Regions from separate parts of the Homo sapiens genome. Here region 2 is linked to region 1. The links come from fine-mapping of genetic effects on gene expression. Tissue or cell type: whole blood. Region 1 holds a variant in brackets; the other region holds the start of a gene. All regions are shown on one strand. Distances are from middle to middle.

Evidence for each region. PIP is the estimated chance that this variant, and not a neighbour inherited with it, causes the effect.
Region 2: DND1 starts here. The variant in region 1 is fine-mapped to the expression of DND1 in whole blood (TOPMed, PIP 0.93).

What each region holds. Positions count from the first base shown.
Region 1 is chr5:140,720,400-140,724,798 of GRCh38, forward strand. The region is part of intron 1 of LOC105378198 (a long non-coding RNA gene); the gene reads left to right. Among named protein-coding and RNA genes, the nearest start is that of ZMAT2, 22 kb to the left of the region's middle. The variant G/A (reference allele first, on the strand shown) is at 2,555.
Region 2 is chr5:140,671,500-140,675,898 of GRCh38, forward strand. It overlaps DND1 (DND microRNA-mediated repression inhibitor 1), which reads right to left and starts at 2,077. Exons shown (of 4, transcript NM_194249.3): 1 at 2,020-2,077; 2 at 1,772-1,889; 3 at 946-1,407; 4 at 1-251. The coding sequence starts at 2,043. It overlaps WDR55 (WD repeat domain 55), which reads left to right. Exons shown (of 7, transcript NM_017706.5): 7 at 1-846. HARS1 (histidyl-tRNA synthetase 1) reads right to left here. Exons shown (of 13, transcript NM_002109.6): 11 at 3,518-3,634; 12 at 3,180-3,326; 13 at 2,406-2,829. The coding sequence ends at 2,758. RefSeq lists enhancers at 951-1,746, 1,747-2,542.

The DNA.
Region 1 (4,399 bases):
AATGCATTTTTCCCCGAAATAGCCCTTTTTTAGAGTGGAGCACCGACTGATGCCTTGTGATTTTGTAATTCTCTTTCATTTCTGTGGGACTCTTAATTTTCTTTTCTTTTTCTTTTTCTTTTTGAGACAGGGTCTATCTCTCTCTCCGAGACTGGAGTGCAGTGGCGCCGTCTCAGCTCACTGGAACCTCTGCCTCAAGCAATCCTCCTGCCTCAGCTTCCTCCTGAGTAGCTGGGACCACAGGTGCGCGCTACCTCGCCTGGCTAAATTTTGTATTTATTTAATTTTATTATTTTATTTAATTTTAATATTTTTGTAGAGACAGGCATCTTGCCATGTTGCCCAGGCTGGTCTCGAGTTCCTGACCTTAAGATATCCGTCCTCCTCAGCATCCCATAATGTTGGTTTACAGCAGTGAGCCACCGCACCCAGCCTGGGACTCTTACTCATTGCTTGCTTCCTTTTTCTTCACCATCAAGCCCTGAAGGGGTACCTTCCCTTCAAGTCGCCTCTTTCCTCCTGCCTTTCCTCTTGCCTTTGCAACATTGCCATGGCCAGTCTCAAACAATTTCACCCCCTTTTAAAATCTGTCTCAGTTCTTTCATCTACCAGATCTCGGACGTATTGTCAGTATTTCTCCACTCAAGATGGGACTCTTTTTCTGGTGGTGGTTTAGCCTTTCTGTGCCATCTTGGCTTCTCTTCTAGAGCATGGCTCTGTAACTGGATCTGCTGGTTTTGGATGTATATACCTGCTTTTATATAAAATGGGGTTTATAATTTTCTCTGTCTGTAAATTATATTGTAGCCATGGATGGTTTTATTCGTTCTCCTTAGTTTTGTTTGTTTATAGGATGTGTGGAGAGATTCAAATTTAGGTAACTGGCGTTATTCTATAGGAATCTGGAAGCCAGAACGTTTGTTTTTGTTTTCCATAAAAAATTTTAATTGTGGTAAAATACACAGAAAACAAAATTTGGCATATGAACCATTTTAAAATGTTCAGCTCAGTGGTGGTAGGTACATTCACACTGTTATGCAACCATCACCACTATCTATCTCCAGGAACTCTTCATCTTTCAAAACTGAAACTCTATACCCATTAACTAATAACTCTCCACCTCCCTCTATCTCTAATCCCTGGCAACTGCCATTCTGCTTTCCGTCTCTATAAATTTGACTACTCTAGGTATCTCATAAAAGTGGAATCACACAGTAGCTGTCTTTTTGTGACTCCTTTATTTCCCTTAGCACAATTTTTTTTTTTTTTGAGACAGAGTCTGGCTTTTTCTCCCAGGCTGGAGTGCAATGGTGCGATCTCAGCTCACTGTAACCTCCGCCTCCCGGGTTCAAGCGATTCTCCTGCCTCAACCTCCCCAGTAGCTGGGATTACAGACGCCCACCACCACGCACGGCTAATATTTGTATTTTTAGTAGAGACGGGTTTGGCTATGTTGTCCAGGCTGGTTTCGAACTCCTGACCTCAGGTGATCCACTCACCTCGGCCTCCCAAAGTGCTGGGATTACAGGCGTGAGCCACTGCACCCGGCCAGCACAATGTTCTTAAGGTTCATCCATGTTGTATCATGTACCATAATTTCATTCCTTTTTAAAAAGGATAAATAATATGCTATTGTATGTGAATACTACAATGGAATATTATTAAAACGGAATATTTTGTTTAGCCATCATCCATCGATAGACATTTGGGTTGTTCTGACCTTTTAGCTATTATGAACGATGCTGCTATGAACATAAGTGTACGAATTTCTATTTGAGTTTCTGCTTTCAATTCCTTTGGGTATATACCAGAAGTGGAATTGCTGGATTATATGGTAATTCTATTTTTAGCTATTTAAGTGACTGCCATACTGTTTTCCATAGCAGCTGTATCATTTTACATTCCCACCAATAGTGCAGAAATGCTTCAATTTCTCCACATCTTCACTAACACTTATTCTCTCTCTCTCTCTGAGTGTGTGTGTGTGTGTGTGTGTGTATGTGTGTGTTATTGATAGTAGCTATCCTGAAGGGTGTGAGGTTGTGTCTCCTGTGGCAGCTCATTTGATTTTAATCTCTCTTAATTATTAGTGTATTTAAAACTGTAAGTTTGCCTTTAAATACTGCTTTATTTGTAGTACACAAATTCTGTCATGTAGTGTTTCATTCACTTCTAAGTGTTTTATAAGCTGAGTCTGATCTAGTAATATGTTATTTATTTTCCAAGTAAGTGGGATTTTATTTTAGCAATTGTTTTTACAAATGTTAATTTCAGAATGCATTGTAGTAGGAGAACATTGTCTGAATGGGATTGGATCTTTGGAATTTATTGATGCTTCCTTTATGGCCTAATACATGGTCTATTGTTGTAAGTGTTATATGTATATTCAAAAAGAGTGCCTGTTTATTTTGGTTCTACATATTTTTAAAAATGTTTTTCATTTCAGCTCATTCATATCCATACTATTTTCAGTTCTATGTGATCTACAGTTCTTAGAGATGCATGTTAAAACATTTCCAACTACAATTGGTGATTTATGTATTTTTTCCTGTTT[G/A]TTTGATATAGTTCAAGATTGTATATTGGATGCATGTATGCTTATGATGATTGTATCAATTTTCTACAGTTAATTAATTAAGCATTTTAACACTGTGAGATAAACATGCAGAAAGTTTATGAGGTATATACGTAAATTTAAATACTTATAAAATGAATCCATATAATCACTACTATATAATCCATATAATCACTACTAAGGATAAGAAAACGTTGCCAACATTCCAGAAACCCTGTATCTCTCTTTTGATTTTCACAACCCCTTCACTTTTGGAATTAACCATTCACCTGATTTTTTAATTTTATTTATTTTATTTTATTTAGAGAAGAGGGTCTTGCTATGTTGCCCAGGCTGCAGTACAGTAGCCATTCACAAGTATAATTATAGCAGGCAACAGCCTTGAACTCCTGGGCTCGAGTGATCCTTCTGCCTCAGCCTCCCGAGTTGCAGGGACTCTAGGCATGCACCATTCTGCCCAGCTCCATTTACCTGATTTTTATTGATTTATTATTATTACTGGTATTATTTTTGAGACAGAGTCTTGCTCTTTCACCCAGGCGGGAGTGCAGTGGGGGTATCTCAGCTCACTGCAACGTCCGCCTCCCGGGTTCAAGGGATTCTCCCGCCTTAGCCTCCTGAGTAGCTGGGATTACAGTCGCCCACCACTATGCCTGGTTAATTTTTTTGTATTTTTAGTACATATGGGGTTTCACCATGTTGGCCAGGCTGGTCTTGAACTCCTGACCTCAAATGATCTGCCTGCCTCGGCCTCCCAAAGTCCTGGGATTACATGCCTGAGCCACCGCACCCAGTCTCATTCTTCAGGAAACCATCTAGTTTAATTTAGCTTCAAAGGATGTCGTTCCTTTTTTGGTACAGTGGAGCTTACCTCTGGTCACTTCTTTTTTTTTTCTTTTTTCTTTTTTTTTTTTTGTTTGAGACGGAGTCTTGCTCTGTGCCCAGGCTGGAGTGCACAGGCGCGATCTCGGCTCACTGTAAGCTCCGCCTCCCGGGTTCATGCCATTCTCCTGCCTCAGTCTCCCGAGTAACTGGGGCTACAGGCGCCAGCCACCACATCCGGCTAATTTTTTTTTTTTTTTTTTTTTTTTTAGTAGAGATGGGGTTTCACCGTGTTAGCCAGGATATTCTCGATCTCCTGACCTCGTGATCCGCCCGCCTTGGCCTCTCAAAGTGCTGGGATTACAGGCATGAGCCACGGCGCCTGGCCATCTCTGGTCACTTCTAAAATGCAATTCTGAATTTCAGAATCTTTAAACTCTTTTGGGACTGGTAAGTGGTTTGAGTCTCAAAGGGACCTAAGTCATGGGGGTGTTTGGAGGTGCTCAAGTTGGTGTCTTAGGAAAGGAAATGGAATGGAAATTCAAGAGCCCACAGCAATCTCCCAGATAACTCAGAAATCTCAAAGAGAAGCTTGTTTCAGGGCTTTCTAAAACCAATGGAAATGTTTGCATTCTGGTTGAGGAATATCCACTTGACCAGTGCTTAGGTGAACATGCTGTAGGTACTGGTATTATCGTCTGGGGCAATGCATCAAAGTCCCAGATGTCATGGAATGTACATTCTGGTGGAATTGCCCTTCAGAGTACCTGGGGAACAAAAGATGATCCTTATTACTAAAGATGATCCTACGGCTTCAGGCACCCTCAAGGCCTCTTGCATTTCTCCCATAACTTTCTCCAAATATGTGTGCAGATTCTTTAATCCAGCATATATTCTAACAACATACTTGTGTATGTGTACATATATGTACCAAGATGTGTATCACTGCAGCTTTATGATAGTGAAACTTAAAACTAGTACATTTATACTTGAATATAATGCAGC
Region 2 (4,399 bases), 49 kb before region 1:
CCAGCCAGCAGGTCCTATGCCCAAACACTTGGTGAGGAACACAGGGCTGCCCAGCTTCATTCGTTGGCACAGCAACTGCAGGGTAGCCCGAGCCCCTTGGAACCCTAACTTGTCCCTTGCCAAAGCCAACTGGCTGCCCTCTGGCTGTGGGGACCGCAAGAAGGGACCCACAAGCTGCTGGCGAAGTCGCTGCTTCAGGTCTGGCTTGAGCCACTCCACAGCCACCTGCTCTCCACAGAGGTGTGACTGCCCTGTAGGAAAAATGCAAAGACAAGGGCAGGTCTAAACCCTGGGCCCAAGCCTCCAGGTGGTGAGCCCTTTGGAGCTACACAGTCCTGTTATTTGTAGCCTTCCCATTTCCTGGTAGTGTGACCATGGGTAAGAAAAGACAATGAAGCCTTCAGCCTCCATTATTTGCAAAGGGAGTATAACACACTGCTACCTTACAAGTTTCCTTGGAGAAGTACTGGTTAATTGCAGGCTTTGTCTGCCTCATAACCATCATAATGGCTAATCTTTACTGGGAAAACTTGCTGTAAGTCAGTCAGTGTGCTAAGTACCGTACACCCATTATGTTACTTAATTCTCATAACAGTCTGAGGAAACAGATTCTATAGTAGTAAAAAGCTCAGTTGGATTCCCTTGAGCAAATCAATTTCTCTAACAGTTTCCTCATAGCTTGAGGGTCCTGTGCCTATTTTGCGGTGTGGGGGTGGGGGAAGGTTGAGAATTAAGTCAGGAGGTAATGCTCGGGAAGTGTCACAAATTTAGGTAAGCGGTGGTGGTAGCACCATTGGAAGTTTTAAAAATCTGAGATCAAATAGTAAAAGGTTGCAAATTCTGGCATGTTTGACTCTAAGATCTTGTAACTTTAACAGCTATGCTCAGTATAAAGTGCCGGGCAGAACGCGTTTGGCCCCAACCAGCACCCCCGCCCCAGCCTACCTTCCACCAGGGCCTTTTTGGCCATGGCAGCGGCCCGGTGCGAGCTGAATTTGAGCAGAGCGATCTGCCCGGGCGCCGGTCCGGGGCTGGGCAGCAGCCGCGCCTCCTGCAAGCCGGGACCCAGCGGCTGCAGCGCGAGCAGCAGCGCGCTGCGGGTCAGATTCGGCGGCAGGCCGTCAACGCTCAGCTCACACTTCTCGGTGCTGCGGCACACGAGCAGCGGGCAGGACGGCCGCAGCGGATGGTTGTGCAGCGTGGCGATGGCGGCCTGCGCGCCGCGCCTCGAGCTGTAGCGGGCATAGGCGAAGCCGCGGTTCAGGCCGCTGAAGGTCATCATCAGGCGGAACTCGTAGAGGCGGCCCACGCGCTGGAACAGCGGGATAAGCTGGTGCTCGTACACGTCCTGAGGCAGCCGCCCGATGAACACCTCTGACCCAGCTGGCGGCGGGCTGCCCACCCAGCCTGTGGGAAGAGGGTATGCAAGGCCACCGTCAGGCGACGCTTTCGAATTCTGAGCCCACGGACCCAGCGCGCGGGGGTGGGAGGCGATGTGAACAAAGGTCTGTGAAATGGGTTTACACCCGTACCCTGGGTGGTTGGCATAATTAGGTGACTGCGCTAACAAGGGGGCTGGCACAGAGTAGGTACACCTTGAGATTGGCCCCCTCCCTCGACGGGGCGGGTGGACGTGGAGCCACAGTTCCTCCTTTGCTGGGGGGTATAAATCCGGGTAGTTCGCAGTTTCTGACAGTGAAGGCTCGGAGCAGCCCCTCCCCCAAAGGGGGCTGGTGTAGCCGGACAGGCGGAGGGGCTGGGACTACCGTACCTGGGGGTGGCCCGCCATACTTCCTCTGCCCGTTCACCTGCACCAGGCGGATGCCTGTCTCCCTGACCCACGCCTCCAGCGCCGCCTTGTTCTCTGGATTCACCCTCTCACACCACAGCTGAGAGGGAAAGGAAGGTTGGAATGGCGGATCGCCAAGCGCGCCCCCACCTCTCCTGTGGTACTGGGGTCCCTAAAGCCGACCCCCGCTCCGGCGGGGCTCGCCGGCCCCCAAGTCGCCAGCCGCTTACCTCACAATCCCGCTTGGACTGCATGGCTCTCCAGCTGGCCCCCTCGTACCCTCTTTATAACTTCCTCCCCACCGGCCTCTGGAAGCTTCCCTACCCCTCCACCCCGCAAGCTCTCATTGGCTCTGAGCGCGACCCCGCCTCCCAGGGGGGTGGAGGTATCCACTGCACGTGCGCCGCCCGGGCTTCGCTCAGACCTTCAGGTGAAAGCTGCAAAGTCGCGGGTGCGTATGTACGGGGGCTGCCTCCCGAGGAGGAGCTCCCAAGCCGCAGGGTGGACGCTGGAGACAAGAACCTCAGGGTCACAAGTTTACTGTTTTTCTCCCTTTTCCATCCCTACATTGGTCTGCTGGGGAAGGCGGGGCTAGGCATCACTGACACACGCAGACTCCGTGGTTGAGGCATTTTATTGGACCTTTGGCAATTGGTGGTGGGGAGGCATCTGCTCCAACTGGTGCGGGGCCCTGCAGATGGGACCATCTCAGGCTGGGTCCTTGTAGCCCAGGAGCACAGACTGGACTAAGCCTCCTGGGCCTTGTATGAAAAAGGTGTTGTACCTGGCCGTTTTTGCCAGTAATAATCAATAAAATAACCATAATAAAAATCAAAGGCTCTGTTCTGACCACTCTTCAGGTCTTCCGCTGAAACGGAAAAGTGCAAAGCAATTGAAGTACATATGCAGTTTGTCTTAACCTCAAATAGTGCCAGTCCCACTTCCTTTCCTCTGATAGTTTGTTCAGTTCAGCAGATGCAGAGGGGCTGGCCTGTTCTCCTTTTGATTTCCTCCACAAGGTCTTCTCTTCGGACATCCACCTGGCCAGGATGGGAGAAGAAGGTGGTATAAGCATCTTCCATTCCACTGCTCCCCGAGTGCCTAGTTTCCTCTAGCCCTCTAGGCATCAGGCTTGTCTCAGCTGGGAGCAGGAACCTAATTAAACACCTCAGGCTAGAGTGTGCCTCTTGGGGGAGCCAACAAACCATAAGGTATATGCAGGGATGGAGATCTCACCCTACTAAGACCACAGTAACAGGTTAAGCCCTCAAGGCTTTTATGAGTTGTACTAATATCAATGCCAGGCTTTTTCTCAGGTCTTGAATGGGCATGGGCCTGCCAAAATGGCATACATTCTCTGTCCCTTAGCCTTCCTGCCCACCTCCCTCACCTCTTCCCTGCTCGTCACTGAACGGAGCTTGATGACCCCATCCTTGAGTTCCTGCTCGCCGATGATAGCCACCAGTGGGATGCCTGCCTCCTCACAGTACTGTAACTGGTTCAGTAGCTTTGGGTTCTTCTTGTACAGCAGCTCAGCCTGCAGGGGACAAGAGCAGAAGATGAAGGCTGGCTTCTGCTGTCCTCAGGGACAGAGGGTGTCCAAGCTGGCACCCTGTTCTTAGCTCTACTTTTGAGAAGTAATGGCAGGATCCATTATGGGTGAGCTTTTATTCAGTTTGTGTCCAGCACACCTAAGTTTGCTGCCACCCTGGGGCTTGCCTCCCATACCTTGATCCCAGCATCCCACAGTTCTGAGACAAGCTTTAGTCTTTCCTCTAGCAGCTTCTTCTGTGCAGATGCCACAAGCACCTGTGTCTCCGTGGTCCGTATCTTCTCCTCCAAAGCCTGGGGAAGGGGCAGATAAAAGAGAGCTGGGCTAACACCTTCAAGGAGCAAACAAAGCAGGCTCTAGTCGGGATTTTGAGACCAGGCCCAACTCAGCTCTACCAGGGCAGGGGCCCTGTCTTCTCATCTAGCACCTTGGGCATAAAGGTAGCTTTTAGTAGATATGAGGACTGAACTGACTGACTTGTACATAGGACGTATCAGAATAAATAACTTAGGGCAAGAGTAAAGGTAGCTTTTTTACAGTAACTTCAAGCTTATCTCCATGTAGTACCTTTTTTTTTTTTTTGAGACAGGGTCTCTGTCATCCAGGCTGAAGTGCCGTGGTGTGATCACTGCAGCTTCGACCTCCCAAGCTCAAGTGATCCTCCCACCTCAGCCTCCTGACTACAGGCACACACCACCATACTCAGCTAATTTAAAAAAAAAAAAAAATTTTTTTTTTTAATCTGTAGAGACAGGGTCTCATCATGTTGCCCAGGCTGGTCCATGTAGTACCTTAAGGGTCCACCAAAGCATTCACACAGAAGTACTACTATGAGCCCACCCCAATTAGATCACCCTTGACAGTTTTAGTCCCCACTTACTATCTACCCATTTATGACACTGTGCCTCTCACACTTCAGTTACAGGGCACAGGCGTGTATATGGGTGTGGGGAAAGGAGAATGCTGCTGCTGCTTCCCTTGTCTTTTTCAGGAAAACTATTTTCATAGTTCTTAGAATGTAAGATGCCTACTGGAAAAATGATCTCAACTGGGAAATG